4 linked regions of the Homo sapiens genome follow. The protein of the gene in region 1 interacts with the protein of each later gene in a pairwise test. Each region holds a gene or a part of one and is shown on either strand. Other genes may lie near its edges.

Region 1 (7,026 bases):
GGGAGAGGCTGGCTTAGGCCTGGGAATGGGTATAGCCAGTACTCCAGGCTCCCAGCAGCACAGGTGCACCTTACAAGGAGAGAGGAAGGAGGAGGACCCTGGTGTCCAGGTGTGACTGCAAACAGGCCTCAAGGCAGGGTAGAGGGAGCCATGGGGCTCTCTTAGTGCGTGTAGCTCTTCTGGCTGGAGGATGTGGTGGAGACAAACTTGACGCTAGAACCACTGCCCCCTAAGCCCCGGTTGCTGGTGGCACTGAATCCAGAACCTCCCAGGCCTGCACCCAGGCTATGCCCACCACTGGTGGTGAAGGAGTAGCCGCTGCCCCCACCGAGGCCCAGGTTTCCACCTCCAATGCTGCTGCCGCTTCCATAGCCACTGGAAAGAGTAGAGGTGACCACAGCTGCCGGGAAGAGAGGAGGTGTGGTCAGATCAAGTGCAAGCGAGAAGACAGCTGGGAGTGTGAGGGCCTGTGCCCTGGAGTCCTTGGGTGGGGAGGGGGTGGTCTCGTCAGCCAGCAGTTTGCCTCCTTCCAATGTCCCCTGCTTAGTGAGATCACTGCCTGTGTTCCTGAGCTGCAGCTCCAGGCAGCCTCTTAGGCTGGAATGGCTTCCTCCTCCCCTTCCAGAACCTACTGGAGCCCTCTCCTCCTGGAAGCAGCTCCAGTCCACCTGCTTTCCCTTTGATCCTCCTGCTGTGCCGTCTGGGTCTGTCTCCCTGTCTGAGCCTGACTCCAGAGTTTCTCTTCCTTCTGGATGCTTATGGGGGGAGGGGCACACTCCTCTTCCCTCAGCGTCTCCCAGCCCCACACTCAGAATCCCAGGGTGGAGGCTGGAATATTCTTGATGGATCAAGTGACAGATTAACCTGTTGGCCAGTGAACTCTGCCCCCGTTCTCCTCCCAACCTATTCTTCTCCTAATTTATAACTCATCCCCTTACACATTCTAGCACCCTACTTTGGGTCCTGCCGAAGGAAAATCAAATTTTAAAAAAATAGACTCCGTTATAGGATGAATTGTGTCCTTCAAAAACCTATGGTGAAGTGTTAACACCAGTATCCGTGAATGCAACCTTATTTGGAAATGGGATCGTTGCAGGTATAACCAAGTTAAGATAAAGTCTGTAGGGTGGGCCCTGATCTAACATGACTGGTGTCCATACAGAAAGAAGGAAGACATTCATCTGAAGCCACAGACACACAGGGACACGGTCATACAATCACAGAAACAGAGAGTGGAGGGATGCAGCCACAAGCCAAGGAACACCGAGGATGGATGGCCACCGCCAGAGCTAGGAGGAGGCTGGAGGGGGGCTGGGCTGCCCATGCTGCCTCCGTGTTCCAGAACACTATCTGGTTTGGAGAGGGGATAGTGCCACCCTGCATGATATACAGAGCAGGAGGCTGGTCCAGGCTCCAAGTTTCAGAGGGACCAGGGCCCTGCTAACCCTTAATTTCAGCCTCCGGAACTGTGAGACAAGACATTTCTGTTGCTTTAAACCACCTGACTGGTGGTACTTTTTGCAACAGCCCTGGAAAACTAATACAGACAATTAGGTGTTTTCAAGAGAAAAGGAGCTTCAAGGTTATGCTTGAAGGCCTGTCCCCAAAATTAGCTTTGAGGGTCTCTGGCACCACTAGACAAAGACATCAGGGAGGAAGGACACCTGGGTGGTTCAGAGGGCTCTGCCTTCTAGAATCATTGGCTAATATAATGAATTGCCCTTATGAATGCCCATCAAGAAAACCAAACTCAAACTCACTTGTAGAGGGTGAGTTGTAAGAGTCATTTCTGTTGCCCTTGTGATGCCAGCACTGAGCTCTGCGAATGACCACTTCTTCTCTCACCAGCACAGGGCCATGCCAGCTTGTTAATACCTCTCCTGTTTTAGAGCTACTGTAGCCAACTGCCATATTTTATGCTGCCCTTACTGCCTTGAAAACCCTTGGCATCCTTCTGCAGTTATACTCGGCAGAGTTGAGCCAAGCAGTGGAGCTTCTTCTCAAACTGTTTAGGAGAGAAGCTGCCTAGTTGGCAATGCTCTTGTCCACAGCATGAAGGCTCCCTTCAAAGGTCCAAGCCAGACCAGGAATTTTCATAAATCCCGTCTACATCAAGTGCTCACCTCTGTGCTAGGCTTGCAGCCCCAACAAAAAGGCAGGGAATTCTGGGAGGTAGGAGATGTGGCCAGGATCTTTTAAACCCACTCAGAACAATGACATCAAACCTCTCATCACCCCTTCTGTGACACCCTCACTCTCAAAGAGGAAAGAACTGTGACATTAAAGACTCCTAATATGGCTTGCTTTTTAAGGGACCCAAAACCTCAAACCTTCTCCAAATGAACGCTGTCTGTGAGATCCCGTCTAACCCGTCATATCTTCACCCTCTGGCAAGCCCACCACATCCCCATCCCCTCTACCACACACACTCCAAATGGCCCAAGAAGTATGTCATACTCACAAATGTTAACTGGAGAAACTCCCTCTCCACTCAACCTGATTGGGAAGAGCAGGGAGAAGGAAGGTTACCAATGTGGCCAGCAGCTTAAGGGCCTTTGCAATGACACTTTTGTAATTGTTGACAAAGCATTTAAACATACTTTATTATTTTTATTGCAGAAGTAATGCAGGTTGAAATTATTTGAGAACTAGTAGTATTAAAGATAATATTAATAATCTAATGAATAAAATAAGGTGGAGTTTGAGGTTCACAGGAGCAAAATCTATAATCTCAGAAATACAATTTTTGGTTTAAACTAGTTAGATGCCTTAAGGAAATTAAAAGTAATCATATACTGGCATCAACTGGAAAGAAGGGCCTGTCCTATAATAAGATTTGTCTCTCAACAAGGGACCATTGTCATGCACTGAGCCAGGGCTGAGCTTATTGTATATAGGTGTGGAGAGGCGTCTGAGTCATAAAAATAACAATAGTAATATCAGTTTATTATTATCTTAGCAACCAAGTAACTTTGCTTTAGCATCTTCAGGACAGAACTGGCATTCATTCATAAACACATACTGAGAAACTTAACAAGAGGTAACAGCTGTTGATTACCTGTTACTTATATCACACCACTTAGTTCTCTCAACAACCCCATGAGGTAGGTATTATTTGCTCACTTTTATAGAGGGAGAAATGGAAGCTCAGACAAGTTAACTAACTTGCCCATAGTCGCAAAGCTGGACTTGAAGACAGATTCATCTGACACCAAAGCCTATGTCTTTGGCCATGAAACTGAATGATAGCTAACATTTATCGAACACGCTGTGTACCATGCATTGTTCTAAGAGCTTTGTGTGTATTCCCTTATTTTAACCCTTTTAATAATGTGAGAGTTTAGAACTATTGTTATTCACATTTTATTGGATGAGAACACTGAGAGGTGGAGAGGTTAAGTATCTGCTCTTGGCTACACAGCTCCTAACTGGCAGAGCACAAAGCTCCCATGAAGCTTTGCGGATCATGTAATCTGACCTTTTCATTTTATCATTGAAGAAATTGAGGGCCAGAGAAGGGAGACTGACTTTCCCAAGGTTATGTAGCTACTTAGTGTTAGATCTGTAAGCCCAAATCCTAGGACTGTTTGTTCTCAGCCCATGGCCTTTTAGACCACATTTCGAGAGCTGCCATGTAACCAAATGTCTCCTTTGGTAGAATTCAGTTACTTAGACCTGATCAGGTTTTAGGTTTCTATGGGGATGCTAACTGTAGTTGCACCTCAAATGATTTACTAGCCTGGAAGGAAATTAAAATTATTTTTTTGCCATAGCCCAATTCTGAACTGCATTTTCTTCCAGGAGAAGAAGGGGCTGCAACAGCCCGAGCCCCTAGGAATGCCCAGGAAGCTGAGGTGAGCTCAACTTGCTTTGAGGATGAAGTTGGTGCATCTGCCTCACCTGCACTCCTCGCCTTCCAGCAGCTTGCGGTAGGTGGCGATCTCCACGTCCAGGGCCAGCTTGATGTTCATCAGCTCCTGGTACTCACGCAGGAGCCGAGCCATGTCCTGCTTGGCCTTCTGCAGGGCCTCCTCAAGGTCCACCAGCTTGGCCCGTGCATCCTTGAGAGCCAGTTCTCCCCGCTGCTCTGCATCAGCAATGGCCGTTTGCAAGCTGGAACACTGTAAGGACAGGAGGAAGCCATGAGTCCTGCTGACAGCCCATGGAGGTGTGGTGCTTCTTGGGGAGGAGTTCTTAAAGATGGCAGAAAGGCCCAGAAGAAATGAGCATTTGAGGAGCTCTTGGCCCTGCCAAATCTTTACCTGCTTCTTGACGCTGTCAATCTCAGCTCTCAGCCTCTGGATCATGCGGTTCATTTCAGAGATCTCTTGTTTGGTGTTTCGAAGGTCATCCCCATGTCTGCCTGCGGTGACCTGCAGCTCCTCGTACTGAGAGAACCAGAGCAAACCCAGTCACTGAGTCAAATGCCTGGCCCAGGCACTCGCTGTGCACACAGACCCACCCTGGGTGCCACAAGCAGGCTCATTCATTCCTGGTCATTCACTCATTCCCCCTGAAGCTTACAGTTTATTGGGGGACATAGACATTAACTGAATTAGCATATTATCAAATGTATAGTTCCACACTAAGATAAGTGCCCTTAGGAAATGAACAGGGTCCTGGGAGAGTGTAATGAAGGAATCTGACCTAGATTTGGAAGTGGGAAGTGGTGGTCAGAGAAGTCTCTCCAGAGATGGAGATGCTTGAACTGTGGTCTGAAGGATGAGAAGGAGGGACCTAAGTGACCAGTTGTGGGGGAGAACATTCCAGACAAAGGAAACAGCCTGCATGAAGACTCTGGGTCAGGGAAGGAACATGGTGAGTTCTAGGAGTGAGACGGTGATTTGATCAAGGTCCCTGGGTAGTTCCTGGTCACAGAGCGTGCATCCAGACCAACTGTGCCCATGAATTTTGGTAGCCCTCCAAACACCAGTGCTGGGGAAACAGGGAGGAGATATGGGGGAATGGTGTGGGATGGTGCAGAGGCTGTGGAAGGCACAATTTTGAAGACTTTGTAAAAGTATTCCCAATCTCAGGTAGTTCTCAATCTAATGGTGCATATCCAGGACATGTGAATTTAAGAGCAATAATTACACCCTGTCTCCTCCAGCAGACTGAAGTGAAACCTACACCTTTCCCTGACAAAAGGAGATCCCCTGCCAGAGTCAAGATCTGTGGGGTTCTTGAAAGTGCTGAATAGCTCAGGTTCCCGCTTCTAGGTATACATGATTAAATGGAGCAACAACCCAACAACATGAGGAATCGTTTGCTATCGATTTCAACCACTTCACCTTGGGGTTAAGTGCATCATGTTTCCTTTCACCGTCAAGGCGCTGCCTCTGCCCTGTGGAACCCTGGTCCCTGCTACCCACCTTCCTTTCCACCACACTCCTGACCAGAAGGGATGAGGCAACGTATGGAGCAGGGAAAGAGTTGGAACCTGCTCGTAGGTGAGAAGCTGCCCCAAGAGGGGTCTGGATTTGACAGGGAGCTGGTATCATGGGTCAATTGTACCCCGCAAAGCCAAACTTCTTTGCGGCTGTCTGAGCTCTGGGCAGTAGCTGTTTGTGTTTATCCCAGCCTTCCTCTTCCTGACATAAACTCCCTTGCTTGTTCTTGCCTGCCAGCTCCTTGTTCAGCCTTAAACCTCTCCCCACTCCTCAGCAATCTTTTGTCCCTCATGGCTTCCCAACTGTACAAAGCCCCCATGTCTTCCTGGAAGCTTTTTATTCATGCTATCTTTTCCCTTCCATGATTGTCCATTCACTTCATGGCCTCCCAGAGCTTGGGTTCTCTGTTTGCAGTTTATTTATTTGCAACCCTGTAACCCTGATTGGCATACAGCAGGAGCTCAGAAAATATATAGAGAATAAATAAGCCTTTTAGAAACTGCTTCATGACTGTGTCTCGGTTGTCCTGGTGTCTCACCCTGCTCCCACCCAGATCTTGAGGAATGTGGGGCCAGTGGATGTCCTGAGCTCCCAGCATTGGGCTGACCATGTATTAGTGTGTCTGGTTCGGTTTCCACATGCATTTCAAGCTAAGTTGTCATAGCATCAAAGACATGCCTGCTAAGTTGAAATAAACGAATGTGCTCACACGTTTCCTGAGGCTGAGTTAAGTGATAATGTGGAGCCTCAGAGAACACTAACCCTGGAACCTCTCATGGAGGTGTCCATGCTCACCTTGGTCTGGTACCAGGACTCAGCCTCGGCCCGGCTGCGGTTGGCAATGTCCTCGTATTGTGCTTTGACCTCGGCGATGATACTATCCAGGTCCAGGTTGCGGTTGTTGTCCATGGACAGCACCACGGATGTGTCACCGACCTGGGTCTGCAACTGGGACAGCTCCTGCAGGGCAGTAAACTCAGCATCACCAAGGCATAAGATGAAGAATCTTAAATCTTCGTGGTTAACTACCCATCTAGGTCAGGAATCCTTTCCTTGGTATTCCTGGCAGATTCTCCCAGCTATTCCCTAGGTATTCCCATTCATCCCAAAAGATCAGTGTGGTGAAAATCTTTCCCAGCCTTACTTCTCAAGGCTCCCATCTGTGTGCTTTCCCCAGGCATGAGGGTGGGTAAGCATCCTCTGAATTGGAATTACATAGATTTGAATGTGACACGTGTCTGTTCAGTATGCCAACATAAACGGCTTCTTTAAGAGCATTGGGGACATCTGGGACACTGCTTCCCCCTGCACAGTGTGACTCCATCACTTTCTACCTCTCTCTCCCTTTCCACAGACCCAGGTCTCTGCCTTTGGAGGGGTAGCGCCCAGAATGAGGCATCTTCAAAGGGTAGGAAGCCCCCTGACCAATGAGCTGAGGGACAGCTTGCCTTTTTTTTTTTTTAATACTTTTCAGGGAAGGGGAAGGGAGCAGGTATGTGTTGATTCCTTGGGAAATTACCCAGTGTCCTAGAATTTGGGAATCAGTACTCTCTCCTTGTTAGATGTTGTCCTGCCATGGGATAAGGGAGTTCGGGGGAGAAGCATCAGAGCTGGGGTAGTTTAGTATGACAAGGCT
Region 2 (7,026 bases), on another chromosome or scaffold:
TCCTCACAGGGAGGGTTTCCCCTCAGAGGAGCCCCTCACCTGGATCTTCACCCCATTATCTTTCTTCCTTTGTGCCCTACCTGGGTGCTCAAGGTGTACGGGAGAAGACAGGTAGAGCTGTGGCCTGGGGGTACAGAAGGGTCTGCAGTGGAGGGAGGCTGGGAGGCCCTGGGGACAAGGACAGGGAGGGGGAGGGGTGAAGGAAGGGGTCACAGTTGGAAGAGGAAAGACACCCTCACCCAGGGCGTGGTGGGGTGCAGACCTGGGATCAGCTTGGCCTGGCTCTGCCTAGCAGCCTGACGAGAGGGGTGGGTGGGGAAGAATGGCCCAGCAGATTGAGGAAGGCCGGTTTTAGAGGGCCTGAGAGCCCTTGGACGTTGGTATTGGCTGTGAAAACTTCTTTAGCGGATGAAGTTGGTGTTTGTGCCAGCCAAATAGTGGGGCCAGACTCAGCATCAAAGCGAGAGGCAATGAGGTGTCAGACTAGAACAGCAACGTGGAATGCTGGGAGGTGACCTAGAGAAGAGGAACCTCAAAGAAGGCTGGAGGAACTCAGTGGCTGATCGAGCACAGCAGGTCAGGGGCTTGGGAGCTTCCAGCCTGGGAGGATGTGGCTACTGTGAATGGGAATGGAAGTTGGGAGTCCCTTTGTCATCTGTAAAATGAGACGTTGGTCCACAATCTCCAGATTCTCCAGCTCAGACATTCTTGGATGTACCTTCCAGGGCACTTCCAGATTCCAGATAGGGCTTGTATTCCAAATCCAAACAGTTTCCTTTTGTCCTTCTACGGTGAGGGGCAGAGGGGGACACTAGAGCCTGACTGGGCAGCAGCTTTAATTTAATTTTTTTTCCTTTTAATTTTTCTTTTCTGTTCCTTTTTCTTCCTGAGATTCCTTTTTACCGGCCCCACCAGTGTTCATCTCCCTTCTGGGAGCAGCATTCCCAGCTCTCCCAGTGTCCTCCCTCCCCTCCCCATTGTCCCCTGACCCCTTTCCTTCTATGCCTCAGTCTGATATTGCAGGGAGGTGAGGGTGTGGGGGGAATGACAGCTGGGGACAGGCCTCAAACACTTCCCTGTGTCCCTTGAACAGATCACAGTGAGCTCATCTCTCCTCCATGGTCAGAAGAGAGGTATAACGCTTGGTGGTTGGCAAAAAGATCATACATTTAAAAATAATAATAAAAGCCTGCCTTGTGCCTTCACAGATTCTGTTGACCGAAGAGTTTGTAGAGAAAATGTTGGAGGATTTAGAAGATTTGACTTCTCCAGAGGAAGTAAGCTTGTTTGACTTTTCCTGACAACAGGTCCCGTCTCTGGGACCATGTGTGTGCGTGCGTGTGCACGTCTGTGCATGCATGTGTGCGTGTGTACCTGTGGTGCGTGTGTGCTTGCATGTATCTGTGTGGCTGCATCTGTGGGCTCCTCCCCAAGGTGCAGGGATAGGCTGGAGAGGAGACTGTAGATTTCTCTTCTGTTTCTATGCACCCTCACCATCCCCTGCCCTACCCCCAGCCCTTGTAAGGACACCCAGCAAATCGTCTGAATTGCCAGCTCCTGAGAGCCTCATTGAAGAGGAAGCCAGGGCCTTCAGGCTAGTACGAGTTCTCCCCAGCCCCTGCTGTTCCCTGGCAGATTCTGAACAGAACGCCCATGTCTGTTGCCAGAGAACATTCCGCTGGGGAGTTCTGGTGGGCAGCAAGGGACTCCTGCTCTCGCCTCGGGCCACCCAGGAGCCACTCTCCCTTCTTCGTCCTCCAGCCATGAGCTGTGCCTCTTAGTCTCCCTCTTCCAGCCCTGGCTCAGAGCTGGAGGAGCTGGCAGGCCAGCTGTGGCTGTGCCTTCTTTAGCTGCTCCTCTGGGGTAGAGGAATGGAGTCCATAATCCCCTTTGTTTTTTCTCCCTTGTTCCCGGCATCCTTATTTGCGAGGGCTTACCTCATCCTGGAAAATCCCTTCCCCTCCCCCGCTCCTGCCCGCAGCACCCCAGTGGGATGGGAGCTTTCCTGGCCCCAGTGCCCCATGGGTTAGTGAACTCTAGCAGGCTGGCCGGGCCTCTGGAGAGCTCTCCTGGGCCCTGCCCTGCCTGTGGCAGAGGCAGACCCTTCCCTTGTCCTGTCTGCCAGGAAATGTGCTTGGGGGAGAACTCCTTCGCCTCCCAGGGGCCAGGCTTTCTACCAAGAGGGAGGCCAGGCGGGAGCTAGGTTCCAGCCAGGGCTGGAGCTTCCAGCTTCCAGGGCTCCCTGGGCTGCAACAGCCAGGACACAGGCCTCTGGTGTTTAGGAAGCTGAGGGGAGTGCACAGGGCGGGACCGTCCAGTCCAGGTCTCCAGTTGGACAGGAACTCCCCAGAGCCAGGGTCACCTCAATAGAGCAGGGTCTCCTCTGTCCTCTGGGATGCAGCTTGAGAAATTTGTTCATTTATATATTCCAAAGCCATCAAGCACCCAGTCCATGCCAGCCAATCAACCCCCACAAGTCACTGGTCCCTGAGTCCCAGCTCCCCATTCAGTCAGACCAGAGCCAGCTGCCCAGAAGCGCTTCCGGAGAGGCCTTGTCGCACTGGGATGGCGCTGTGCCAGGCTGCTGCTTTGAGCTTGGGGGTAGGAGGGGGACAGTCCAGGCAAGAGGGACAGAAGCCTGGGGGAGCAGAGGAAAGTAGGTCACTAAAAATGACTTTTTTCTTTTTTTCCTTTTCTGTCCAGAGGCTGTCCCTACACCCTGCCTCACTCGCCACTTTGGTCCTGGCAGAGACAGTCCCCCAGCAGAGGGAGCGAAGAGGGAGGCAGCCAGGAAGGGTCAGGCTCGTCTGCCTCCAGCCCCAGACCGAGGCAGGCTGAGAACACTGTTCTCTCCTTTCCACCCTGCCCTGACTTCCGGCCTAGCCAAATTAGAAAAGACAGACCCTGGGCCGGGCGCAGTGACTCATGTCTGTAATCCCAGCACTTTGGGAGGCCGAGGCAGGTGGATCACCTGAGGTCGGGAATTTGAGACCAGCCTGACCAACATGGAGAAAACCCATCTCTACTAATAATACAATAATTAGCCGGGCTTGGTGGTGCATGCCTGTAATCTCAGCTACTCGGGAGGCTGAGGCACGAGAATCGCTTGAACCCGGGAAGCAAAAGTTGCAGTGAGCCGAGATCGCGCCATTGCACTCCAGCCTGGGCAACAAGAGCGAAACTCCGTCTCAAAAGAAAAAGAAAAGACAGACCCTGTGTCTAAGTTCCGGTATCAGTCCCAGGCAGTGAGCATTTATTGAGCTCCATCTGTGTGCCAGACTGCATGCAAAGTTCTACAGTAAAGAGGGAATAAGAGGCATCAGCCTCTTCCCCTTCCCCTACCAGAAACTCCCAGGTGAATGGGAGAAACAGAACTGTAGGCAAATCAGTGTATCCTGGGATGGGGTGGGAGACATTTGGCTCTCCTTGGCCACCACTGGGACCACTCTGAGGCTGGTAACCCTGGGAAGTGGTGCGAATGAATACAGGGAGCAGGGTGGGGATTGGCCCCTCTCAGGCCCAAGGGATCACCTCAAACCACACTTGTCCCACTCTTCTGCTCCCACCAAGGCCGCAAGTGTGGTTCTGACTTTGGGGCCGAACTGGGGCCTCCTTCCCTTTGGAGCCTTTGGCCAAGTATACAGAGGACAGGTTCCAGGGTTCTTCCTGCACTAGCCTCTGAAAGAGAGGCCATGGCAGTGACAGAGCTCAGGCCACTTCCCCATAGCCTCCAGACCCTCCCCCAGCCCCCATCCTCCAGCCCCAGGGCCTCAGGGAGCAGATTCTTTACATGCCTGTGGCCAGAGGCAGAACCAAGGAAGTGAGCAAGAGGGAGGTCAGCTTAGTGGAGAAAGGAGGAGAAAACGCCCTCCTCCAACCTGCCTCATTATTGACAGGCCGTGGGGAAAGAAGGGGTCACCAACTCCAGCCGTTTGAGCCCAGCCTGCCACCTGGGTCTAGCATTTGAGAATGAAGCCACGCCTCCCGCGGCCTGTCCTATCCCTAGCTCCCCGGGGACAGGCCTGGGCAATCTCTGGAAAGACCACGGTGTATTCTGCTAACCACTCACACTCCTGGTCTGTGCTTGCTCCCTCCACAGTTCAAACTTCCCAAAGAGTACAGCTGGCCTGAAAAGAAGCTGAAGGTCTCCATCCTGCCTGACGTGGTGTTCGACAGTCCGCTACACTAGCCTGGGCTGGGCCCTGCAGTGGCCAGCAGGGAGCCCAGCTGCTCCCCAGTGACTTCCAGTGTAACAGTTGTGTCAACGAGATCTCCACAAATAAAAGGACAAGTGTGAGGAAGACTGCGCAGTGCCACCCCGCAGCCCAGTGGGGTGCCATGCACAGGCCACAGGCCCTCCACCTCACCTCCAGCTCAGGGGCCGCACCCCGCCGCTGGCTAAGCCTTGTGACCCATCAGGCCAGTGAGTGGGCAAATGCGGACCCTCCCTGCCTGCAGCCTGCACAGATTCTGGTTTGAGGTTTGACTCTGGACCCTGGCTGTGCCCCTAGGTGGAGACAGCCCTCTTTCTCACCTACCCCCTGCCGCACAGCCCAGCAGGAGGGAGGCGGACAGCCAGATGCAGAGCGAGTGGATGCACTTCCCAGCTCATCTCTGGAAGCCTTTGCTACTCAAGCTCCTCTGGCCGCGGAACAATTCCTCTGATCATGTTTGGTTTTCTTCTTCCTTATTTTATTTTGTAGAAACCGGGTGGTATTTTATTGCTCTGCAAAGATGTCCAGAAGCCATGTATATAATGTTTTTTAAACAGAACTTCATTCCCCGTTGAACTTTCGCATTCTCTGACAGAGGCCTAGGGCTGTATCTCTCCCTGGGCTGCCACCAGAGAAGGTGCTTGGTGTTCGCCTGCCAGCCCAGAGCCCTGGAGGAGCCGGCTGCACAGAGAGGCTTTTCTTCCCAGCTGGGCCTGGTGGAGCCCGGGGCAGGGGGAGAGTAGAGACACTCCCTTGTGCAGCTTTGAGCCTAGTTTAGCTGGGGCCAGGGAGGGGTGCTACTGTTTTCCAAGTGAATGGGTCTCAAAGACTTGGTGACCCCAGCCTCATCTTCTAGGCCTTTTCCACCCAACCAGGCCTACCTGGGAGAGGGTGAGGTTCAGCACATCACACACCATCCCCACTGTCATTCAGGGCCTGGGTCTCCAGCTCTGTAACCAGTCCTGTCCCATTTCCTCAGTCCCTGGGCCTCCCAGCCTTCAGGCTGTAGGGCTGCCTTACTAAAATTGAAAAATCCACCTCTTAACATCTCTTTCACTTTGGTTTTGCTAACACTGCTCTCTGCTGCCCTCCCATCCTCCCTGTATCCATTCATGCCCTATCTTTCATTCTCCACTCCTAATCCCTCTCCTTTCTGGCATCCTGGCCTCTCGTGGTCCTCAGCCCCTCACCCCCAGTACTGCAGATCTCACAGTTTGCCTTCCAGAAGCCAGCCTATCTCTAGCCCATGGTTTTGGAGTTCCTCTCGGGTTATCTCCCACGCCTGACCTGGAACCAGCAAGCCCCTTTCCTGCCTTCTTACCCCCAACTCTAGGGATGGGACTGTTACAATACTTCAAGATCACTCTTTACACCTCTTCAAAGCAAAGTCATGACAATGCAGGGCTCCTCATTGCTCCCATCTGCCTCTGCTGCACACACAGGCACCAGCAGGGATGCCACAGGAGTGCCCACAGGGTGCAGGACTCCACTGATGAGAGATCCAGCCAAAGAGCTGCCCCCAGGGGTATGAGGGCACCAGCTGGGTTCTCCAGGGAGCAGGAGTTGGACCTCCATGGAGCCACTAGGCCTGGCCTCCTCTACACATCCCCAGGGCTATCTGGTTAATTCCATCAAGCTCAGAGTTAAAAGGCATATCAGCCTGGAGTATTTGGGAGAGACTGGCTGCAGATCCCCGCCAGCCAAGATGCAAGCCACTCGGGACCTGATGTCGGCAGCTGTGCCTCTACTGCCCTGAGGACTTACCAGAGGGAGCCCTACTGGCCTTCCCCCACCACAGCAGCCCTGCCTGTGAAGCTCTTGTTTCTGACATTTCACAGGCAGAGAGGTGCCATCAGTTCGCCTCCATTCCTTGCCACCATGACCAGCCTCTCCCTGAACTCTCTCTTGCTCGGGACCTGCCTGAGGGCTCCCTGCTGCAGTTCGCCGTACTTCCATCTGCTGGGTGCCTCCATCGTTGGTTGGGTGGGGATGGGGCATTTTCTGAGCTAAGCTTTGTCATTAGTTTGTGAAGCACCTGGTCAGCAACCTGCCCCAGACCTGGAGGGTCTTTGTGGACTGAAGGTAGACACCAGCCAGCATGGTGGCCCTGTTCTGGGGGAGCAGGGTAAGGCAGGAGGAAGTGGGTGAGCTCCGAGATGATGAGCACATGAAGCCTGTGGCCCCTTCGTACCTGCAATATGTCAGGAGCCTCACGCTCACCCAAGATCCTGCAGGGGCCAGGCTCCATCTCACTGGCTCTGAGGGCAGGACAGGGTATCACACATTTCTCACCAGGCCTCCTTTCCTATGGGCATTGGTGCCTCCCAGAGGTTTCTTGGGCTGCTGGCTGGTGAGAGAGGACCCTTAAAGAAGATCAAGCCAAGCTGACCTTGGACCCTGTCCAGCACAGCTTCTGGCACAGGATGCTTGGTGAATGTACCCTTTCTTTCCCTCCCTGCAGCTCTGAGGGAGCCCCTGACCTTGTAGTGGGTGGAGGAGGTAAGGGGCCTCCCTCCCTAAATCTGCCTCTTCTGCAAGCTACTTGGAGACTTGCCTAGTTGTACCCACCCCTCCAGGTCCCTGGTGCTAGAGCTTCTGAGAAGGGCCTTTCCCTTTCCTCTTTGCCTGCTATATAAGGCAGGCTCCTGTGGCTCTGCTGGCTCAGTGTGGGCTGCAGGAGGACTGCAGACTCAGCTGCAATTCTGAGGGGGGTTTGGGAGGCTTGTGCGAGGTCTCAGGCCTGTGTGGGGAGCTGGTGCCTCTTCCTGCCCGTATCTTTCTCTTCCAAGGGCAGTGCTCCAAGGCAGGGACT
Region 3 (7,026 bases), on another chromosome or scaffold:
GGTCAATGAATGCAGAACTGCTGCAGTGGGAGCAGGGGTGGGTGACACCCACTAGGGAGGTGCTTTCAAACTCCTACTGCTCCAAGGAGCAAGCTAGAAAATCCCACTTCTCAGGCCCCTTCCACTAGGACACACTATGAGCTTAACACTGCTAAGAACTCACTGAGGAATGGTGACATTTGGGGGCGGCTCCTTCAGTGCTTTGTTTGGCTTCTTTTTTAAATTATAAATGGTGGTTTGAAAGTTGTTGGAGGGGAAAATCAGATGAAATCAGGGATGTGGCTGAAGCAGTCAGTGTAGCAGTGTAGCAGAGAAGCAGAGAAGCTGTCAGCAGCCTACCCAGGCCCCGAAATGGGCACAGCCCTGCATTTCTGGCCTGAGGCTTGCCGAGGTCTTAGGTGAACTTCAGCTCTTTCTACAGCACCCCAGTCTCAGCACTCTTTGGTGGATGTCCTGATTGGCTGGGAGATTGTTGCTTCCTGATACAGTGGTGATTACTTCTGAAAGATGGGGTAATACCAACAGCTATCGTTTCTGACCATTTACTGTGCAGCATCACTGTGCAAAGTATTTTTATACATATCCTATTGACTCCTCTCAAAACTCCTGTGAGGCAAGCAGGCACCCCAGTGGCCTCATCCTAGTTCTGGCCCTGGTGACATTATGATTGCCTCCATCCTCCATTTGATAGGTACAGAAACTGAGGTTCAGAGAAGTGAAGTAAATTCCCCCAGATCACGCAGCTAGCAAACAGCTGAGCTTCTATGCTCATCCTAAGGCTCGGTTGAAATGGATTTTTTAAAAGATGTATTTTGGGCTCTTTACTATATAGAAAACCGAATCTGTTTATCACTAAGGTTACTAATAGGCCTTACATCTGTGAAAACTTATCTGTCAGCTGGCCCTGAAATGTTCTGAAATGAGTCTGAGCACAGGATGCCTGTGACAACCGAATAGTTTAAAAAAATTCTCCATGGGAGCCGAAACCCTATTAAGACAGGTCTTTATTTTTGTTCCTGAATGCCACATTTAGAAACAAAATGTCATATTTTTGTATATGAATGTCACAAGTGACAAAGCATATGTTGCAACTTGGCTTCTAATGGTTGAAAAAAAAAGAGAGGTAAATTATCATAATGTTGGGATCTTCTCAATTATATTTGCATTTTCATTTCTATCAGAAGTCCATTTTAGCAAAGGAATGTAACCTTAGTCACTTGAAACTGCTGTTCCCTTAGAAAACAATTGTAAATGTAATAAGCAAAAAGGATAGAAAATGCCCACAGGGGAAAAAAATGATCCATCTGGGGTCAGAGCCATCGTGTAGATTGATTCATTCTTCTTCTAGCATTCTTATTCAGGAAGGAAAACTTGAACATTTTCTAGATTTTAGGATATTTAAGATTTGCAAGGAATTGGGGGAAAGGGAAAAGGAATGAAATTTCAGTCCCACTGGCAGGGATCAAATAGAGATTTTCTCAACTTTTAAAAGAACCGTTTTACATGTCCCAATCACCTCATAGTTCCTGAGTCTCTCTTCTGCATAAGGCATGTACTAGTTGTTAAGGGAGGATACAATAAGGTCATGATTGCTTTAAAATTATTCATAATAAAAACACATTTTGAGACTTGATTCTAAATGTTAAACTTAAATTTGAGCAATTTAATTGCCCGTTGAATAGGAATGAAATCCCACCGGTAGGCAGTTATTTCTTACAACCACTGTGTGTGAAATTGAAATCTTAAGATACCATTTCAAATATTCACCTTCTCTAAGGAAGTTCTCCCCAAAGAGTTGTGAAAGATAAGAAACTGACCCAAAGTCATATGCAGTAATCTCTTTTTCTTTACACACTCAGGTCAAAGTAGAAGCATATTATTAAAAAGAAACGTTATGCCCTGAATTTGGCTGTTCTGAGGTTACCTCTTGGAACCCAAGGATATATTTAATTTAAAAACTGACTTGAGCCCCATGCAAAACTGTGACAAGGAAAGTAATAATTTATCAGATTAAATAAAAACAAGCAGATGTGGCCAGGCGCGGTGGCTCATGCCTGCAATCCCAGCACTGTGGGAGGCTGAGGCAGATGGACCGCCTGAGGTCAGGAGTTTCAGACCAGCCTGGCCAACATGGTGAAACCCCGTCTCTACTAAAAATACAAAAAATTAGCTAGGCGTGGTGGCGAGCGCCTGTAATCCCAGCTACTCGGGAGGCTGAGGCAGGGAAAATCGCTTGAACCCAGGAGGCAGAGGTTGCAGTGAGCTGAGATCGCACCATTGCACTCCAGCCTGGGTATCAGAGCGAGACTCCATCTCAAAAAACAAACAAACAAACAAATAACACCCAAGCAGATGCAAACAGGTCATTTAGTCACCACGATAATGAACGTTAAAATGGAAAACACTTACATGTTTTATTTAGGAGAAGAAGGGGGTGAGGTGAAGGAATCCTGTTTCCTGCTTTTAAAAAACAGGAAATAGTTTCCAAATTTGGGTGGGCAATTCTTATTTTAAACCCCCATTTCACCTTTAAATTTAATTTCAAGCTCTTTTAAAATTATCTTAATGATGCCCTTTACTATAACATAGCAGCTGCCATTTATGAGTGCTTACTATATACCAGTTGCTTTTCATGCAAGCAACTTCATATCTGTTATTACCCCCATGCCATTACAAATCTATGTGCCACCCTTTTGTGCACTAACTCATATAATCCCCACAATAACTTAGGCAATAGGTTCTGTCGTCTCCATTTTACAGATGAGGATACTGGGAGTTTATTTGTTTGTTTGTTTATTTATTTTGAGACGGAGTCTCACTCTGTCACCCAGGCTGGAGTGCAATGGCGCGATCTCTGCTCACTGCAACCTCTGCCTCCTGGGTTCAAGTGATTCTCCTGCCTCAGCCTCCCGAGTAGCTGGGGTTACAGGCATGTGCCACCACACCTGGCTAATTTTTGTATTTTTAGTAGAGATGGGGTTTCACCATGTTGGGCAGGCTGGTCATGAACTCCTGACCTCAAGTGATCCACCCGCCTCGGCCTCTCAAAGTGCTGGGATCGCCTCGGCCTCTCAAAGTGCTGGGATTACAGGTGTGGGCCACCGAGCCCGGCCAGGATACTGGGAGTTTAAATTCCTGCTGTGAGCCCAGGTTGACACAGCTGGTCAAGGATGGGTTAGAATCCAGGTAGTCTGACTCCAGAGCTACTACCGCATACTGCCTCCTCAGATTAAATAATTTTCCTAGGACATGCTAACTGATAAGTAAGAGTCTAAATCAAACCCAGGCAGTTGGGTTCCAAAATTCCAGCGTTTAACCACCACATTGACTGGTTATAAGTAGGTAAACTGTTCATCACAACCTATATATTTATTTTCATTTCTGTTAGAAATGAAAGTAGTGTGGTAGGTTACATATTTATCACATAGTTTAGGCTTGCCTAAATTCTAAGTATTTTCTTTTTTAAATTAAAAACAAGGGTCTATCGGAAAAAAAAAAACCCAACTTTTTTTTTTTTTTTTTTTTTTGAGACAGGGTCTCACTCTGTTCCCCAGACTGGGGGGCAATGGTGCGATCATGGCTCACTGCAGCCTCAACCTCCTGGGCTCAAGCAATCCTCCCACCTCCGCCTCCCGAGTAGCTAGGATTTCAGGCAAGCACCACCACGCCCAGCTAATTATTTTTATTTTTTATTTTTTGTAGAAACGGGGTCTCACTGTGTTGCTCAGGCTAGCCTGGGTCTCCCAAAGTGCTGGGATCACAAGCATGAGCCACCGAGCACAGCCGAAAAAGTCTTTTTGTATACTGAAGTCTCCACTAGGACAAAAATTTGCTCTTAAGGCTTCCTTTGGGACACACACACACACACACACACACACACACACACACACACAGCTTTTGATTATACCCATTAGGGACCCAAGCCTTGGGACACAGGGACCAGAAAATGACAAGAGCATGCAGGCAGTAGTAAACTCTGGTTATCCTTAAAATGGGAACAGAAATGTATGCCTATGATCCAGACTGATCATATAAAACCATGGATCCTGAAAGTACGTTCCCTCTTTACAAGCCTTAATGACTGGCATCACGCACAAATAGGCCTTTCAGCTTCTGAACGCAGATATTTTCAAGGAACTCTGAGGCCCAGGAGAGCCTAAGTTTTTCTCCACGGAAGGGCAAACTACTAGCCTCCCCCGCTTCCCCTCTGCGTTCCTGCCTCTTTCTAGAAGGAGGCTGAGAGGGGGAAGCCTGAACCCCCAAATCAAGTCCGCCTTCTTTCTCTGTGCCTGACCCAGGGCAAAATAATCTCTCTGATCCTGTTCTTGACCATTGAAAAAGCACTTTCTCTGGTCGGGATACTACTGGCACTTTACATGGGGGGCAGTTTAACCGCAGGAGTCCGCTTTCTGAAAGGTGCAGAGGGAGGGGATTCCGCCACCAGCCGACTGAGAGGAGCCCCGGCCCCGCGTGGTCCCTCCCAGCCACCCTCCCTCTGGGATTAGCTGCCCTGGCTCTGCTCTAGGCGTCCCCAGCCCGTGCAGTCCCGGCTGGCGCACCACCATCGCCTCTGCAGAGCGCGGCCGCAGCCCGGAGCCCGCAGCCCGGAGCCCGCAGCCTGGGGCCCGCAGCCCGTAGCCCGCAGCCCGCAGAGCCGCGCTGTCCGGGGCATCCCAGTGCACGGCGTCCGTGGACCTGGGACCTCGAACCTGGGACGGGCGGAAAATCCACTGGGAACACTTGCATTTCTGTAGGTGCTTATTTCACATTCTTGTCTTTTCTTGCTTGCTCGAGCTGTTCGTGGGTTACTTTCTGCCTTAGTTAAACCAAAAGGGAAAGGCGGAAGAGGGGAAGCCCTGAAGAATGATTTAGTGGTTGCCCAGCCTCCTTTCCAAGGAGAGGTGTTCGCTGAGCGGCTCTCCCCGTCCCCGACACTGGCCCCTTTAAGAAGCCAAGTCAGTCCTGATGCTGCTGTTTGTATTGCTAATCCCCAGGAGCCCCGTTTAAAAAAAAAAAAAAAAAAAGGAAGAAAAAAGGGGAGGTGGGGGGACCGGGCAGCTGTCTCTTTAAATGTGATTTCCTTCTATTGTATTTGAATCGTGATCAGGAAAAAGGAAATGAAACCAGAGACAGAGGGAAGCTGAGCGAAAATAGACCTTCCCGAGAGAGGAGGAAGCCCGGAGAGAGACGCACGGTCCCCTCCCCGCCCCTAGGCCGCCGCCCCCTCTCTGCCCTCGGCGGCGAGCAGCGCGCCGCGACCCGGGCCGAAGGTGCGAGGGGCTCCGGGCGGCCGGGCGGGCGCACACCATCCCCGCGGGCGGCGCGGAGCCGGCGACAGCGCGCGAGAGGGACCGGGCGGTGGCGGCGGCGGGACCGGGATGGAAGGTTAAGTCCTGAGCAGCAGCAGCAGCTGCAGCCGCCTGGAGCCAGGCTGCGCGCCCCGGCCCCCGCCTCGGCCGCGGCGCGCCCGCAGCCCGGTGATTCGCTCTCTCTCTTTGGCGTTTGAAGGGAGCGCGGTGACTGTCCTTGAGCGCGGAGGGGCGAGCTCGCCGGCGGAGCGCCGGAGCAAGCGGAGGCGCAGGAGCGGCGGCGACGGCGGCGGCGGCGGCGGCGCCCGAGCACCCGAGGGGGTCCGAGCCCCGGCAGCCGGCCAGCCCCGCGCCACAAAGGGAGCGCCCCCGCCGCCCGGCACCCCGCCTCCCTCCCCAATGTCCTCGGCCATCGAAAGGAAGAGCCTGGACCCTTCAGAGTAAGTGCGGCCCCCCTGCCCCTGCCACCCCCGGTGTCCACGGCCTCGCGTCCCGGAGCGTCGGGGGGACCCGGGCGGCCCGCGAGGGGGCTCCAGGTGCGCGCTCGCGGCGTGCCCTTGGCCCCCTGTGCCGAGCGCTGGGCTCCTCCTTCCTCCCGGGTGATTCCGGGGGCTCTGGGAGAGGGACTGGGCGGCGGGCGGCAGGGACAGGGGTCGGCCCGGCGCCTCTGCGGGCCACTCCAGGCTACTGGGACGCTCCCCAAAGCCACCACGGGCCAGAAAGTTTGCACGGGAGCAGGCACGAGGAGAGCCTGGAGGCGCGCAGGTGCAGTCCGGAGAGCGTTCTGGGCTTGACTCTGCTCCCTTCTTCCCTCTCCTTCTCGGTCCTTTCTCTTTGTCCATTTGGTCTTGGAAAGGGGAACATTCCAAGTGGCGGCCTCCGGGGTCCCCAACGGCCGCCTTCCCGGTCCGCAGGTGGAGCCGCTGCCAGCCTTGCGGATAACGGGCGGGTGAGGGGTCCGACCGTCCACCTCGGAGCTGGCTCTGGGCCTCCAGGGATTTCTAGAGCAGCGAAATCCGGAGTAAATCTGAGTAGGTGTACCCCTCCTCGGGGTCCACCGATGGGGACATGTGAACCTCGAAAGTTAATGCACCATTTTGTGTATAGGTGAATTATTCTGGGGAGTAGAGTCTCGTAGTTTTTAGCAGAGTCTTAAAAGGGTTTGGGGTCAGGGAACCAGAGCTCTAATGAGCATTGGCCGCATCTGTTTTCTGAGCCGCGTACTGGTTTGGAATGTTTTTCTATCCCTCACCCATTCTTCAGCGTTAACATGGGGAGTAAGGGGTGTTTAAGATATCATTTTCCTGTCAACGCAAATGCCCTTTTAAGAGTCATTAGCTGTCTGGTTTTGAGAATTTTTATTCCTTTGAAGTCCCCCTCTAATCCTTTGAAGGGATTTGTTACACAAGACCAAAGGAGCTGGTTAATGACTTGTCCATTTGTGCTTTTAAGAGACATTTGTTTTGTTTTTTCTTTTCCTGCTTTAAAAGAATTGTGCTTTCCTGCTTGAAATACCGCACACACACACATACACCCTTCAATTTCGGCTTTCTATGGTGTTTATTTACCTGGGTTTTACCCTCAGTTACCAGCATAAAAGCTCAACATATTCTCATAAAACACAGGAAGTACCACCATCCAATGAGAATATAAACATCACTATTCAGTCTTGAAGGTTAAGACACCAGTTCTGTAATGAGCTAGGTTTGTTATAACA
Region 4 (7,026 bases), on another chromosome or scaffold:
CTACCAAAAAATAATAAGTTAGCCAGGTGTGACGGCACACACTCGTAGTCCCAGCTACTCCAGAGGCTGAGCTGAGAGGATCGCTTGAGCCCAGGAGGTCAAGGCTGCAGAAAGCCATGGCCACACCACTGCACTCCAACCTAGGCAACAGAGTGACACCCTGTCTTTAAAAAAAAAAAAAAAAAAAAAAAAAAAAAAATATATATATATATATATATAAAATAAAGCATAGGTTCATTTTAATGTCAATAAATTCAAAAATACTTTTATTAGGTTTTACTTTTCTTTTATTAGGTTGTTTGCTATGTCTTTGGCTGATCTAACAAAAACAAATATAGATGAGCATTTCTTCGGCGTGGCATTAGAAAACAATAGGAGGTCTGCAGCATGCAAGAGAAGCCCAGGCACAGGCGATTTTTCACGGAACAGTAATGCTTCCAATAAGAGTGTTGATTATAGCAGATCTCAGTGCTCCTGTGGAAGTTTAAGTTCTCAGTATGATTATTCAGAAGACTTTCTCTGTGATTGTTCAGAAAAGGCTATTAATAGAAATTATTTAAAGCAGCCTGTGGTAAAAGAAAAGGAGAAGAAAAAGTATAATGTTTCTAAAATCTCCCAATCTAAAGGTAAGGAGTAAAATTTCCCAAGCAAGACCAAATTTCTGTCATAATGATGTTATTTTACTGCACTAGTGTTTGAAGTGGTTCATACTCAGTTTTATTGTTTTCCCATATTGTAAATGTGTATTATAGGTGAACTTTTATAGAATAAATTAGGAAATAGAGAAATTAAGAGTAATTATAAAATAACAGAAAGGCTTCACATGTAAAGCCTAGCCCCCTGCATGGCTTACCCTACTGGAGCCTACTAGTGAGGTTAGTTCTGTTTTTAGTTAACAGGTGGCCTTGTTACAGAGTACCACAATATTTGGATTTCACTGGCTTCTTGCCTTTCATCTCAGCTGAAGAATCAGTGTTTGAATTGCCAGTGAAATGTAAATACCTATCTCAGCACCCCAAGAGGATGGTCTCCAAGTCTGGTGAGACATATTGGCAAACACCATCTTTTGAAACAGAGATGGTTCAAAAGGCTGTTAATAATGTCATTTCTTTGTAGATTTTTTTTTTTTTTTTTTGAGACAGAGTCTTGCTCTGGTTACCCAGGCTGGAGTGCAGTGGCGCCATCTCGGCTCACTGCAAGCTCTGCCTCCCGGGTTCACGCCATTCTCCTGCCTCAGCCTCCTGAGTAGCTGGGACTACAGGCACCCACCACCACGCCCGGCTAATTTTTTGTATTTTTAGTAGAGACAGGGTTTCACCGTGTTAGCCAGGATGGTCTCGATCTCCTGACCTCGTGATCCGCCTGCCTCGGCCTCCCAAAGTGCTGGGATTACAGGCGTGAGCCACCGCGCCCGGCTCTTTGTAGATTTTTAAAGTACCAGCTCTATCAACTCCCAGCTGTCCAAATTGGAATTAGCTTGTGTTATCTTTGATCTCCTTTCTTCCTCCTTCCCTGCCCAGACTGTAATTCCTTCCTCCCATTTGAGGCAATCTTGAGCTCATAAGTATTCCTTATATAGAAACAGCTGGGGCTCTTGTCCATGTTGACCATCAGAGCACTTCAGTCAACAGGAGGACAATAAAGGGCCTGCTGTTTGGGGAGTGCATCTGCCACCGCCATGTCCACCTTGCATCTTGCATCCCCAGTCTGCTGTTACCAGCTGTGTCCAGGACCCTCTGTGCCACTTCTGGAACACCCAGAATCTTCAGTTCCCCTGCTATAGCACAGGGATTCTTTATCTAAGACACATGTCTGTGAACCCCATGAAATTCTATGCATTTTTTTGTGTCTATGTGTGTTTGTAAACTTTTCTAGACGGCCCTGTACCTTTCATCAGAGTCTCAAAAGGTTAAATGTTACTTTTCTAGAGAGCTGGGGGTCCTACCTCCACTGGCAAGGCCCAGGGCAGGAAATGAAAAGTCCAGTACTTCTCTCATGCCTGGACTCCATCAAAAATGAACATCATGGTTAGATCCTACAAACACACAATTCCTTATCCACATTTGAAATTTACAAATCTCCAAAAACCCAACATCTTTCATATCCTTGGCATCAAAGTTGATTTGGCAACAAAAACCTTATTTGAACTAATATGAAGCAGATCTTTAGTTATTTCACTTAGTGTGAATAGTGATTATAATTTCACTGCAAAAATATAGTTTCATTAAAGGGTGTTGTTCCAGACCCCAATGAGAGAACTGTGGAAAATACCATATATGCACTCACCTTTAAAACCCACCCCCAAATTCTGAAACAGTCTGGTTCCAAGGGTTTACAATAAGAGATCTTGAATCTATATACTACATTTTATATTGATGGTAAGCTTTTGTGGGATCATGCAAGAGGGCAGTTGGCATTTATAAAACTTTCTACAAGAGAGAAATTGCATTTCGAATTCTAAGTACCTTATAATTTAGCTTTTTAAAGCTGATTACTCTTGGAGTATATATTCCTCCATCAAGTATGCGTGATGGATACAGTATGAATTTGTTACATACCCCTCAAATGCAAGTGGTGTACTTACCTTTCTGAAGCCAACAAACCTGGCTTGTCCTCCCCACCCACTCACTAGGGTAGACAGGAAAGTCAATCTCAGACACGTTTGGGGAATAAGGGAATATGAGGGGGCAGGGACATGGAAAGGGCCTCACACAAAGAAGAATACTGGGGGAGAAGCCTCTGCCCTTCATTTTTACCACTTACATGTTCCTTGTCCAAGCCATATGATCTTTAAAAGGCCAGCACCTCCCCTTTCCAACGCATCCATGCCCTCTGTGCACTTCTTGACTCCTGGGGCCTTGGCCAGAGCTCCTGTGGCCATGGCGTTTAGTCCCTTAGCACCCTCTCATGCCTCTGCCCTCCCATCACTTGAGCATGGCATGAGAGGGAAATATAAGCCTCCAGTGCCCATGGATCCCATCACGCATCCTTCTCATCTCAGTGAAATCCCTCTCCTCCAGGGTCAGAGCACCTAAGAGCTGGAAGACATTACAAGTTGGGGGTCAGGTTCAGTCATGCTGGCCATAGTGTAGAACATGTCAGTCCTCGCCCACCCCTGTTTTAAACCAGCCTGATCCATACGGCCTGGGTCTAGAGCTTCCCTAGCCAGTGCCCAGAGTATTAAAGTGTACGGCCTCAACAAAACCACAGACACCTCTTCGCAGGCCTTCTAGTAGATGTCCTAGAGGCTGGCCTGCTCTGCTTTCCACTTACTGTGCTCAGAAGCCTATTCTAAAATACTTAATATTCAGCCATAGCCCCTACTAAACCATGGGAAAATAAATACACTTGAAGGTATAATTGCAAAGACAGGCCACCAGTTATTGATGTTATACTGTGTTGTATAATCTATGAGTTCTTTCATAGTTATGATTCAAATGTTTTATCCCCAGAAAGCATGCTTTGGCTCTCTTGGTTCATTGTTTCTATCACAGGTAGAATTGCCTTTCCCACCACCTGGAGCAGACATATTAAGCCACATCTCAGATGTGTCCACACTTGGACCAGTAGTTTAAGGTTAGGACTTGGGTGACACTGGCCACTAAGTGTCCTTCCCTCTCCAGAATGAGGATCAGACATTTTTAGAGTTTAGAATCCAGTTTCAATTTCTCCTTCTCCGAATCTAGATATATGAATACATACACTTGCACACCACATATACATTTACATACACAGGTGCACACATACATATACCTCTATATCCTACAAATGCACACACCTGTGGGGCACTAGCATAGGCACATAGACAATGGGCTCTGTCTCACCACTTCCTAGCTGTGTGCTCATTGACAAGGGACATCCCCAAGCTTCCATGTGTTTATCTTTAAAATGGGATAATAGTACAGTGATTTACAAATGTATTTAACATACTCAAATTCAATTAGGTAAGTTTGGTGCTAACTGATAATTTTTAGAGACTTTTTGTTTAAGATAGACCCCTGGACACATGCCAATTACTTCATTTGGTGCCCAGCCAAAGTAACAGGAAAAATTAACTGTGTTGGATTTATTGAGAGATGGAAAATCGGTATCTGTATAAACAGATAGACTCTTATGCAATTTGATGACCTTTTGAGGGTCATTTTGAATATATAAGTTCTTTACATTGGATTCTCATGTTATACTCTAATTACCCATAACATATTGTTGAAAGGATTACATCAGATAATCTACAGAAAGCATTTAGTTTAATGCCTGACATATGATAAGCACTTAGTAAATTTCAGCTATTGTCATGGGGTTGGTTTGTTTGTTTTTGAGACAGGGTCTCACTTTGTCACCCAGGCTGGAATGCAGTGGTGCAATCATAGCTCACTGCAGCCTCAAACTCCTGGGCTCAAGGGATCCTCCCGCCAAGGCTTCCTGAGGAGCTAGGACTATAGGCATGTGCCACCATGTTAGGCTACTTTTCAAAATTTTGTAGAGGCCGGGCACAATGGCTCCCACCTGTAATCCCAGCACTTTGGGAGGCCAAGGAGGGTGGATCACTTGAGGGTCAGGAGTTTGAGACCAGCCTGGCCAACATGGTGAAACTCCGTCTCTACTAAAAATACAAAAATTAGCAGGGCATAGTGGCAGACACGTGTAATCCCAGCTACTCGGGAGGCTGAGGCAGGAGAATCGCTTGAACCCGGGATGCAGAGGTTGCAGTGAGCCAAGGTTGCACCACTACACTCCAGCCTGGGCAATGGAGGGAGACTCCATCTCAAAAAAAAATAAAAATAAACATTTAAAAAAATTGTTTTTTAGAGATGGGATCTTAACTCTGTTGATCAGGCTGGTCTCAAACTCTTGTCCTCAAGCAGTCCTCCCACTGCAGCCTCCCAAAGTGTAGAGATTACAGACATGAGCCACTGCACCTGGCCTATTATCACAGCTTTTAGTCTAGCTGTTATAATAGAAATCTAAGTACAGATTTTAGAGTCAAAGAAGACCTGGTTTTCAATCCATTCTGTGTCACTTCGTGGCTATGTAATCTTGGACAAATGATGTAAAATCTCCAGCTATAAAATATATTACAACTGATCTTAAAGAATTGTATTAAATGAGGTAGTTATATATAAAGTACCTAGCCTAAAGCATGGGTATTCATTAAATGATAGTTTTGTCCCCTTCTAGTTACACTTACGCTTGTGTGTATGTGTGTGGTGTGTGTGCATGGGGGCATGGGAGAGAGATTATGCATATGTGCATATTTGCATATCTGTATATTTTACTAGTAATAAACTGGATTTTCTGCTTACACAGGCCAGAAGGAAATATCAGTTGAAAAAAAGCACACCTGGAATGCATCACTCTTTAATTCTCAAATCCATATGATTGCCCAAAGAAGAGATGCTATGGCTCATCGAATACTCTCAGCAAGGCTTCATAAAATTAAAGGACTAAAAAATGAATTAGCTGATATGCATCATAAATTGGAAGCCATCCTTACAGAAAACCAATTTTTGAAACAACTTCAGCTTAGGCATTTGAAAGCTATAGGAAAATATGAGAATTCACAAAATAATCTACCTCAAATTATGGCTAAACATCAGAATGAAGTAAAAAATTTAAGGCAACTACTTAGGAAATCCCAGGAAAAGGAAAGAACTCTATCTAGGAAACTTAGAGAAACTGACAGCCAGTTACTGAAGACTAAAGATATCTTGCAGGCACTGCAGAAACTTTCTGAAGACAAAAACCTTGCAGAAAGGGAAGAACTCACTCATAAATTATCTATTATCACAACAAAAATGGACGCAAATGACAAAAAAATACAGGTCTGTATTTCAGGGGCCCAGACAGTTTAAGATTCCAAAGTTAATAGAGAGAGGGTGTGAATTAATCATGGATGCGCCCCCTCTGTAACAAAGCATTACTAACTGCTTCACTTGGCGTGCTGCACTAAATAATTATGTTGTCTAATAGAGGGCACAGAAAGGGAGTGGTTTGAAGGAAAAACAGAAGCAGCTCAAACTAGAAATGTTCATCTGTTGCAGTGCACAAGAGTTCACTCTGTGGCTGGACTGGTTTATCTGGAAATGACCATTCTCTAAGAGAGCACAGCTACAGTGCTAAGGGACTTTTTCCCTGTGCTGAAAAGATTGCATTGTGTTACGTGAAACCTCTCTTTGAAGTCAACCCTCTACCTTAAACTGTTGATTAAAAGGCTACTTCCCTAAAAACCTACTCAGTGCATCCGTTCAGGGCCTTTGTATTCTCCCTCACCATTTTGGCCAGGAATTACCACACAGACATTTGTAGTTATTTTCAAAATAGCAGCTTTTCCCAGATAATGTTCCTGGGTAGTAGGGAAGGAAAAGGAATTAAAATAATTAAAGAGATGACTGGATTGATTTTCCTCAACAGCACTTGGTTGTCAAAAGCCTGGGGATTACATTATAAGGGATGACTTGGGAGAAGGCATTGATATCATATTAAGAATTCTCCTGCATATCTTACATTAGCTAGTTTGAGTCTGTATAGACATAAACATAAATGGAATTAATTTAGGATTTAATTCTGTAATATTTGATGCTGAAACACGAGTATTTTCTATGATCTTGAAGTAAGTAAATATCAGGTTCGTTTCCTCCACGTTTTAATCTCAGTTATTTCTTCTGTTGTTAAAATTCCCTATTTTCCAATAAATTTTTTTCACATGAAATTAATATGTGATCTACAGAAAATAATGAGCAACCTCAATTTTCACTCTTGTATACCAAAGTGATATTATTGGGCCTTTTAGGTAATATTGTATTCATCTTAGCGTATGTCTGTCATGTAAAAGCAAATCTGTTTTCATGTATGTATCTAAGTTGTTCATGTTTTTATATCTATACATAAAACCAAAACAAATTCCATAACTATTTTCTTTGATACAAAAAGCACTTACCAAGTATGAGAAATTTCTGTTTGGTTGTAGGCATTTAGTGGAGGAAAACTGTTTTGTGGACCAAAACATGTTATTTCTTTAACATTAAT

The links.
Region 2: the proteins of KRT75 (region 1) and SUFU interact in binary tests that used the Homo sapiens proteins (3 or more experiments, as listed by UniProt).
Region 3: the proteins of KRT75 (region 1) and LMO2 interact in binary tests that used the Homo sapiens proteins (3 or more experiments, as listed by UniProt).
Region 4: the proteins of KRT75 (region 1) and LCA5L interact in binary tests that used the Homo sapiens proteins (3 or more experiments, as listed by UniProt).

The regions. Positions count from the first base shown.
Region 1 is NC_000012.12:52,424,356-52,431,381, forward strand, and holds part of KRT75 (keratin, type II cytoskeletal 75), read right to left. Parts: intron 6,351-7,026; coding exon 6,186-6,350; intron 4,389-6,185; coding exon 4,263-4,388; intron 4,122-4,262; coding exon 3,901-4,121; intron 2,497-3,900; coding exon 2,462-2,496; intron 401-2,461; coding exon 162-400; 3' UTR 1-161.
Region 2 is NC_000010.11:102,625,967-102,632,992, forward strand, and holds part of SUFU (suppressor of fused homolog), read left to right. Parts: intron 1-1,208; coding exon 1,209-1,277; intron 1,278-4,099; coding exon 4,100-4,189; 3' UTR 4,190-7,026. UniProt on the Homo sapiens protein: Negative regulator in the hedgehog/smoothened signaling pathway. Down-regulates GLI1-mediated transactivation of target genes. Down-regulates GLI2-mediated transactivation of target genes. Part of a corepressor complex that acts on DNA-bound GLI1.
Region 3 is NC_000011.10:33,868,069-33,875,094, reverse strand, and holds part of LMO2 (rhombotin-2), read left to right. Parts: intron 1-5,107; 5' UTR 5,108-5,378; coding exon 5,379-5,385; exon of another isoform or gene 5,386-5,508; coding exon 5,509-5,749; intron 5,750-7,026. UniProt on the Homo sapiens protein: Acts with TAL1/SCL to regulate red blood cell development. Also acts with LDB1 to maintain erythroid precursors in an immature state.
Region 4 is NC_000021.9:39,421,772-39,428,797, reverse strand, and holds part of LCA5L (lebercilin-like protein), read left to right. Parts: intron 1-269; exon of another isoform or gene 270-294; 5' UTR 295-304; coding exon 305-626; intron 627-892; coding exon of another isoform or gene 893-1,039; intron 1,040-2,763; exon of another isoform or gene 2,764-3,038; intron 3,039-5,307; coding exon 5,308-5,822; coding exon of another isoform or gene 5,823-5,852; exon of another isoform or gene 5,853-7,026.